2 linked regions of the Homo sapiens genome follow. The protein of the gene in region 1 interacts with the protein of each later gene in a pairwise test. Each region holds a gene or a part of one and is shown in the gene's direction. Other genes may lie near its edges.

Region 1 (5,075 bases):
ACCATAGCAGGAGTAATTAAGTCTATGGGAAATACATTTATTCATTGAACGAGAATTTAGTATTTCCTAATTCTAACTAGATAATGATGAACTAGGCAGACAGCTCCTGCCCTTGTATAATTTACATTTTTGTTGGGAAGAGAGACAATAAACATAAACAGTGAAATACATACTGTAAGTCAAGTTGTGATAGGTACTATGAATAAAAACAACCAGGGTAAAAGAGAGAGTGCTCGGTGCTCTTATTATTATTATTATTTTTATTTTTATTTTTGAGACGGGGTCTCACTCTCTTGCCCAGGCTGGAGTGCAGTGGCACGATCTTGGCTCACTGCAACCTCCACCTCCTGGGTTCAAGCAATTCTCCTTCCTCAGCCTCCCGAGTAGTTGGGATTACCGGTGACCACCACCATGCTCGGCTGATTTTTGCATTTTTAGTAGAGATGGGGTTTCACCATGTTGGCCAGGCTAGTGTTGAACTCCTGACCTTAAGTGATCCTCCCACCTCAGCCTCCCAAAGTGCTGGGATTACAGGCATGAGCCATCACAGCTGGCTTATTTTTGATAAGATAGTGAGGGAATGCCTCTGAGGAGATAATAGTTGAGGTAAAACCAGAATGAAGCAAGGGAGCAAGTCATGTACATATTTAGAAGAGTTCCTTGTAGAGGGAACAGCCAGTGTGAAAGCACAGAGTCAGGATCATGCTTGGCAAGGAATATGGATGTGATACGAAGATTTGAATATCATCGGTGAATGTGGTTAAGGTGCATAACCAGAGAATTCTTTTTAATATGTCTAGTTAAACATAAATGAGAACCTTATTAAGAACTTGTCAATTTTTCATTGGGTTGATAGAAATTGCCCTCTTGAAACGTATATCTAAGAGGGACATGGGCCTTAGAGCGGCCTTCCCCTCCTTCAGTGTACTGTCCTAGAGAGATGGTTGCATTCGACACAGCCTAGGGAGGAAACAAATTTCAAGGGTGTCTGTGTTGGTCATGGGTAGGAATGGGAGAGGGAATAGTGGACTAATCAGTAACTGTAAAACTTTGTGATACATGTAAATGGTAGAATCTTTCATGTTCTATGAAAATAAATGATTGAACAATTACCATAATCTGGAGGTGATGTATGTTAATTAAAACTTCTAAAAGGAAGTGGCAGCTCAGGGTAAATTTTGATCAGTCATTTTTCAGTAGATTAGAGGAGGGGAATTTTAGACTGCTGGAAGGTAGAAAGAGGATACTAGGCATCTTTCTAGTAAAAAGAGAGGTTTTGTTTTTGTTTTTGTTTGTTTTGAGAGGAGGTCTCACTCTCACACAAGCTGCAGTGCAGTGGCATGATCATGGCTCACTGCAGTCTTGATCTCCCAGGATCAAGCGATCCTCCCACTTTAGCCTCCTGAGTGGCTGAGACTACAGGCACATACCACCCTAGGTCTGGCTAATTTTTTATAGAGATGGGATCTCACCATATTGCCCAGACTGGTCTCCACTCCTGAGCTCCAGTGATCTTCCTGCGTAGGCCTCCCAAAGTGCTGGGATTACAGGAATGAGCAAAAGAGCTAGTCAGCCAGAGAGGTTTTTCTTTTCTCTTCTCTTCTCTTCTCGTCTTCTCTTCTCTTCTCTTTTCTTTTCTGTTGAGACAGGGTCTCACTCTGTCCCCCAGTCTGGAGTACAGTGGCGCAGTCACAGCTCCCTACAGCCTTGACCTCCTCAGGCTCAGGTAATCCTCCCACCTCATCCTCCCACAGGTGCAACACCAGCATTCCCAGCTCATTTAAAAAAATGTTTAGAGACAGGGTTTTGCCATGTTGTCCAGGCTAGTCTGGAATTCCTGGGCTCAAGCAATCTGCCCTGTCCTTCCAAAGTGCTGGGATTACTGGCGTGAGCTACCACCCCTACTTGAGGTTTCTCTTAATAAATATTTTGCTTAGTGTCCTGGTGAACCCAGTTGTCAGTAAGAGCCATTTGCCTCCTGCCTTGGTTAGTAGGTGGAGGAAATAGATGCCTCATATGCTCTGTAAGGAAAGCAGGGCTGGGTGCAGTAACTCACACCTGTAATCCCAGTGATTTGGGAGGCCAAGGTGAGAGTATTGCTTGAGGCCAGGAGTTTGATACCAGCCTGGGCAACCCCATTTGTACAAAAACAAACAAAAAAAAACAAACAAAAAGCAGGATACAGCTCAGGTTAAAACTTTGGTCAGAGGCTGGATGCAGTGGCTCATGCCCAACACTTTGGAAAGCAGAGGCAGGAGGATCATTTGAGGCCAGGAGTTGGAGACTAGATTGGGCAGCATAGCAAGACCTACCACCTCTACAAAAATAAAAATTAGAAAACATTGGTCAAATCCATGGAGTACATACAAATAATATCAAAGGTAATTGATCTGTGTAGCTGTGGTTTGTTCATTCCATAAAAATCTGAGCATTTATGCTGTACTGGATACCATTTTAAATTTCAGGCTGGGCACAGTGGCTCACACCTGTAATCCAAGCACTTTGGGAGATTGAGGTGGGTGGATTACCTGAGCCCAGGAATTTTAGCCCACCCTGAACAGCATGGTGAAACTCGTCTCTACAAAAAATAAAAAATAAATACCTGGGGGTGGTGGTGTACGGTTTTAGTTCTAGCTACTCAGGAAGCTGAGTTGGGAGGCTTGCTTGAGCCCAGGAGGTTGAGGCTGCAGTGAATTGAGATCGCACCACTGCACTCCAGACTGGGCGACAAAGCAAGACCCTGTCTCAAAAAAAAAAAAAAAAAAAAAGTATCAGTGATACAATAGTGAATATGACAAAGTTCTTAGACTTTGGGGCTTATATCCTGATGGATGAATACTGACACTAAAGACATAAAGAATACACTTGCATAGTTTTTACTGGTAATTAGGGCGGTAGCGAAAACAACGTGATAAGAATGTTCAAGGCCGGATGCGGAGGCTCACGCCTGTAATTGCAGCACTTTGAGAAGCCCAGGTGGGAAGATCGCTTGAGCCCAGGAGTTCAAGACCAGTCTGGGCAACATAGTAAGACCTCATCTCTACAAAAAATTTAATAATTATCCAGGCATGTTAGTGCATGCCTGTAATCTCAGCTACATGGGAGGCTGAGGCAGGAGGATTGCTTGAGCACAGATCAAGGCTGCAGTGAGCAATGTTTATGCTGCTGCACTCTAGCCTGGACGACAGAGTGAGACCCTGTCTCAAAAAAAAAAAGTGTTCGGAAGGTGGAGCCACTATTTTACTCACTTATTTACAACAGAAAATAATTTTTCCCCAAAAAACTGCTTTTGACTATTTTTTGTTGAATGTTCTTTTTCTTCCTCATGTTGACATTTCAGCCAGATCCTATAGCTTTCCTGGGCTTTTCTTAAAAGTCTGGTTATTCCAAATTAAAATTTCAGTCTCATAGCCAATCAGAGTGTCTCTTGTACCATCTCAAGACTTTGTCTCTGGATGTGCAGAGAGGAATGGAGGAAGGGCATTTTTCTTAGGTTGGTTTGGGAGGCCTGAGGTGGCATTGGAGCTGAGACCTGAATGATCTGCATTCTAAGGCAAAGGTCTTGAGGTGCAGTGATGAGCTTGGCCTGTTTGAGGAACACCTTTAAAAGGTTGCTGTGGCTGGAACATAGAATTGCAGTAGTAAGAATTACTGGTATTCAAATATATACAATCAGCCCTCAGTATTCATGAGTTCCATGTCTGTGGATTCAACCAACCAAAGATTAAAAATACTCAGAAAAGGCTGGGGGTGATGGCGCATGCCTATAATCCCAGCACTTTGGGAGGCTGAGGCAGGCGGATCATGTGAGGTCAGGAGTTCAAGACCATCCTGGCCAACATGGTGAAACCCCATCTCTACTAAAAAAAAAAAAATACAAAAATTAGCTGAGTGTGGTGGCACATGCCAGTAGTCCCAGCTACGCAGGAGGCTGAGGCAGGAGAATCACTTGAACCCACGAGGCAGAGGTTGCAGGGAGCCGAGATCACGCCATTGCACTCCAGCCTGGGTGACGGAGTGAGACTGTGTCTTAAAAAAAAAAGAGAGAGAGAAACATCACATATATGCACTTAATGTGGCACCCGCACACATTTATTTTTATTAAGCCACCTCACTTTTGTTGAGATAAGAAAGATTTTATGAATCCCCTATAGATGCAAGTAGTGTACTTGCAATGTAACAATGGTTATGAGCTCAGCCTCTGCAGCCACACTGCTTGGGTTGGCCTCCAGGTTCTGCCATTTGCTAGCTGTGTGGTATTGGGCAAGTTACTTAACATCTCTGTGCCTCAGTTTCTATATCTATAAATAGCAGTGATCTCAAAAAAACCTCAGAAAAAAATTGCGTCTGTATTGAATATGTACAGACCTTTTTTTCTTATAATTCCCTAAACAGTACAGTATAGCAGCTGTTAGCATTTACATTATAGTAGGTATTGTAAGTAATTTAGAGATGGTTTAAAGTGTATGGGAGGATGTGCATGGGTAATAAGCAAATGCTATGCCATTTTCTATCAAGGACTTGAACATGTATGGGTTTTGGTATCCCGATGGGTGGGGGTGGGGGTGGGGTGGGGTGGATCCTGGAATCATTTCCCCACAGATACCAAGGGACAACTGTACAGTAGTTTGATTCTTTTGGTTAGTGGGGATTGGCAAATGGGGTTTTAAAATCACATAACTGGGAGCAATAGTGGCTTCATAAACAGTAAGGGAACCCACACATTCAAATAACTAACCTCATAATTCACATGAATTATCTAAAATACGACAACTGAGTTCCTTTGGTAAAGTTATTAGAGTGCCATTAATTGGATATACAGTCATTTACTGCATATTGATGTTTTGGTCAACAACGGATCACATATATAATGGTGGTCTTATAGGATTATAATGGGAGCTAAAAAATTCCTATTGTCTGGCAATGTTTATTGTAGCCCTTGTAACGTAGTAGTGCAATAACACATCACTCGTGTCTGTGGCGATGCTGGTGTACATAAAACTATTGTGCTGTCACTCTTATAAAAGTCTAGCACATATAATTGTATACAGTACATAATCCTTGGATAATAGGAT
Region 2 (3,500 bases), on another chromosome or scaffold:
GAGAGGGGAAGGTACTAGGAGGAAAAGACCACTTTTTAAATGCAATTTTGGTCCTCACTATAACCCTGCCAGGGTCCATGTCTCTTTTCCCATTTCACAGATGTGGAGACTAAGGCCCAACTTAGAAGAGAGCCGGCTGTGAATGAACCAGGTACTGCTCTGAGTGGATTTGCCTGAGTAATTTACGTGGATTAACCTAAGTAACCCTGTCACAGCCACTTTACAGATGTCACCTGGGGAAAGATGGGGCTTCTCAAGAACCAATGTTTGGGGTTCTGCAAAGAGGGCAGGAGAGGCACTCCTGAAGGCCCTGCGGGGCCAGGCCTCCCTTGCTCCACACTGGCCTTGGACTGGCCCCTCCCTCTACCAGGAAGCCTCCCTGATGGCTGGGCAAGGCCTATTAGACTCCTGCTTTCCTTGGGAAAGGGCTATTTTTGATTCCAATCAGCCTCCCAGAGTGTCCCTTGAGGCTGCTGGCCTCCCTCCAAGACTTAGGCCCAGAAGGCCGCCCAACCCCCAGACAGAGGTCTCAGAAATCAAGCTGGGCAGCATCTTCATGACAAGGGGAAACTGAGGTCCAAAGAGGGGCAAGGCATCACCCGAATCAATGCCCTCTCCCAAGAGATAGGTGCTCTGACCTTGTCCATTTTACAGATGGAGAAACTACTATTCCAGAGGCTCTCCCGGCTAACAACCAGCAAAGCTGGGATGTGAACTCAGTCAGGCTGGCTCCACACGCTGCTTCATAACTTCCCCCTCGTGCCAGGGCTGAGCAGCACCACCTGTCCCCCAGGAGACGCCGCCATAGCATCCCTGACAGCTGTCACCAGCCTACGACTGCATCCGTTCAGGGACAGGGAGTTTCCTGTCCTGAAGCGGCCCGTGCATTGCACACTTACTAACAGCCAGACCCACAGCTGAGCCTGTACACACATGAACCCTTTTGACTCTACCACCAACCCCATAATAACACTGGCTAATATCTCCATTTTGTGCATTTTATCCATTTTACCCATAAAGGTGGGTAACTTACCCAAGAACCCTTGAAGGCTGAGGACCTCAGTGGGAAAAGCAAGAGATATGTGGGTCCACAGTGGGGTAGGAAATTTGCCTCTTCAAAGGCAGAGTCCCTCTCTCTCAAGTAAACTCCATAACAGCTGTGCTTCCAAGGGTTTGAGCACTGTTGTGGTCCTATCATTCACCTGTCCATCTAGCATTTATTAAATACCTTTTGTGTACCCAGCCTTGGGTTAGGTCCTGGGGTTACGAGTATGACATAGTCCTGCTCCTCAGAAGTTTCCAGACTTTCTAGGGAGACAGGCCTCTAGCAGGTAGTCCAAGGAGTAGACTTTCTCAAGGTCCTGTCAAGGTTAAACCCTTCTCCTCCCTCTGCGTGTACCCTCCATGCAGCAGGCAAAGAGGCTGGTATGGTGCCCAGGGCACAGATATAGGCCAGGGGGTGCTGGGCAGCTGGGAGGATAGCTGGCTGCAGCTGGATGAGGACAGATCTGCTCCAAACCCATGTGTGTGTCAGTTGCTTGGGTCAGTGTTCCTGGAATTGCCAGAAAGAGCATTGGATTTGAGGTTGGAAGATCAGGCTTCAAATCCCAGCTTTCTATATGTCTCTCCTCCTATAAACCCTTCCCCTCCCGCTCTAAACCTTACCTGCCTCATCTGTAGAATGGGACCAATAACGTATGCGCATCAGGGTCCTTTTGGAAGGAGAGGGGCTGTAGAGGAATTAAGTTAATTCAGTGAAAATCTTCCTACCTTCCAGGGCTGTGTGAGGTAATGACATGGATAATTGGCCAATGTAAAGTCTCTGAGTGGTGTCAACCCATGGGAGAGGCTTGGGAAGGGCCTGGTAAGTCTGGAATTAGCTTCGGGATTGGTGATTCTGGGTGACCATTACCTGGCTGCCTTCGCCTCCAGGAAGGCACATGGTCAGGGAAGGGCCACTGCAGCCATGTGCTGTCTATGAGTCTCTGGCCCATACCAGGCTGCAGGGCCAGCAGCTGCCTGGAGATGATGAGGGGTCCCCACGAAATAATCATGTTACCCCTTACAAGCTGCCTACACATCTTAGCTCACATATGCTTCTACAGCATAGCGAAGTAGCTTATCTCCTTCCCATTTTTATTAATAAAGGAACTGAGGCCCAGAAAAGGGGAAGTGACCTGCCCCAGGTCATATAGCTAGTAAGTTGCAGAATTGAAAGTAGACTTAGGGGTCCTGACCTCCAGACTCAAGATCCCTCCACTCCCCCCGGGTTTTCTGTTCCCCCATGGCCAATACTAACCTCTTTTTGTCGACACGGCCATAGGGGATCCCCAGGGACAGAGAATTTGAGGTTTAATAGCACAGAGCCAAACCAAACGTCTCGCTGAGTTGCAGACTCTTTAGAACTGAAAAATCTGCGGAAAACTTCCAGCCCCAAATCGTCCTTTTGCAATGAGGAAACTGAGGCCCAGAGTAGGACAGGGACTTAGCTGAGGTCACAAAGCACTTTGGCCTTAGCAGGGCAATTATAGCTCAGCCTATGACTCTTAGTGCAGTGCTCTTCCCCCTTGTGCCCTGGCTTTGAGCAGACACCTTTAGATGGTGGCACCAGGATGCCAGGCCAGGTCCTGGGCACCAGCACTTCCTGCTAGTTCAGCACCATGTGCACTGAGCCCCTACCTTGCACCAGGCGGTGGGGTATGTAAAGCCAGACCAGCTTTAGAGAAGAGAAGGGTGTCATACCTCACTGGGCAGAGCCCCTTCCCCCCGCCACTGAAGGCAGACCTGGGCCAACTCAGACCTGGCAGGGACCCCAGCCTCAGAGAAGCAACAAAGGAGTGGGAAGCCAGGCCTGGGCCAGCTGGAGATGGGGGCTCCACCCAGCTGCACAGGTACCTCCTGCCAGTACAAGGGCCAGAGGACAGGCTCTAGTCTACCCTGCCATTTAACAGATGGAAAAACTGAGGACACAAGAGAGGAAGAGAGGCGCTCATGGCTGACTTGGGACAGAAACCCAAGTCCCTTGGTTCCCTGTCCTGGGCTCCTTTCACAATAAATAAAACTGCTGCTACTGCTGTAAATAACAGCACTCCAAGCATCGGGCATAAAATGATTGTGAGGTCATGACCCTTCCCCTCCTCTAGTGTGGACCACAGACTGGCCACCTGACATATTAATCTCATTGAGCAGGGGTTCTCAACTCTGGCCACACACTAACATCACCAGAGAAGCCTCTAGCATTGCATTCCCTGGGTCCCAGCCCTGAGGCTTTGAGTTCATTGATTCAGGGCTGAACCAGGTCCTTGACATGTTTTCAAGACTCTCAGCCAGGCCTGAGAGACATTCGTTAAGATGATTTGACTGCCTATAAGAGAAAACCCAACTAACATTGGCTAAACCACAAGAATCTTCAGTACCTAACAAGTAGGCTAGGGTGGGCGGACCCAGCATTGGTTCAGCAGTTCTGCAACATAATGAAGGACCCAGAAAAACTATTATTC

Evidence for each region.
Region 2: the proteins of CUL5 (region 1) and ASB2 interact in binary tests that used the Homo sapiens proteins (3 or more experiments, as listed by UniProt).

What each region holds. Positions count from the first base shown.
Region 1 is NC_000011.10:108,014,643-108,019,717, forward strand, and holds part of CUL5 (cullin-5), read left to right. Parts: intron 1-5,075. UniProt on the Homo sapiens protein: Core component of multiple cullin-5-RING E3 ubiquitin-protein ligase complexes (ECS complexes, also named CRL5 complexes), which mediate the ubiquitination and subsequent proteasomal degradation of target proteins.
Region 2 is NC_000014.9:93,966,571-93,970,070, reverse strand, and holds part of ASB2 (ankyrin repeat and SOCS box protein 2), read left to right. Parts: intron 1-100; exon of another isoform or gene 101-151; intron 152-3,500. UniProt on the Homo sapiens protein: Substrate-recognition component of a SCF-like ECS (Elongin-Cullin-SOCS-box protein) E3 ubiquitin-protein ligase complex which mediates the ubiquitination and subsequent proteasomal degradation of target proteins.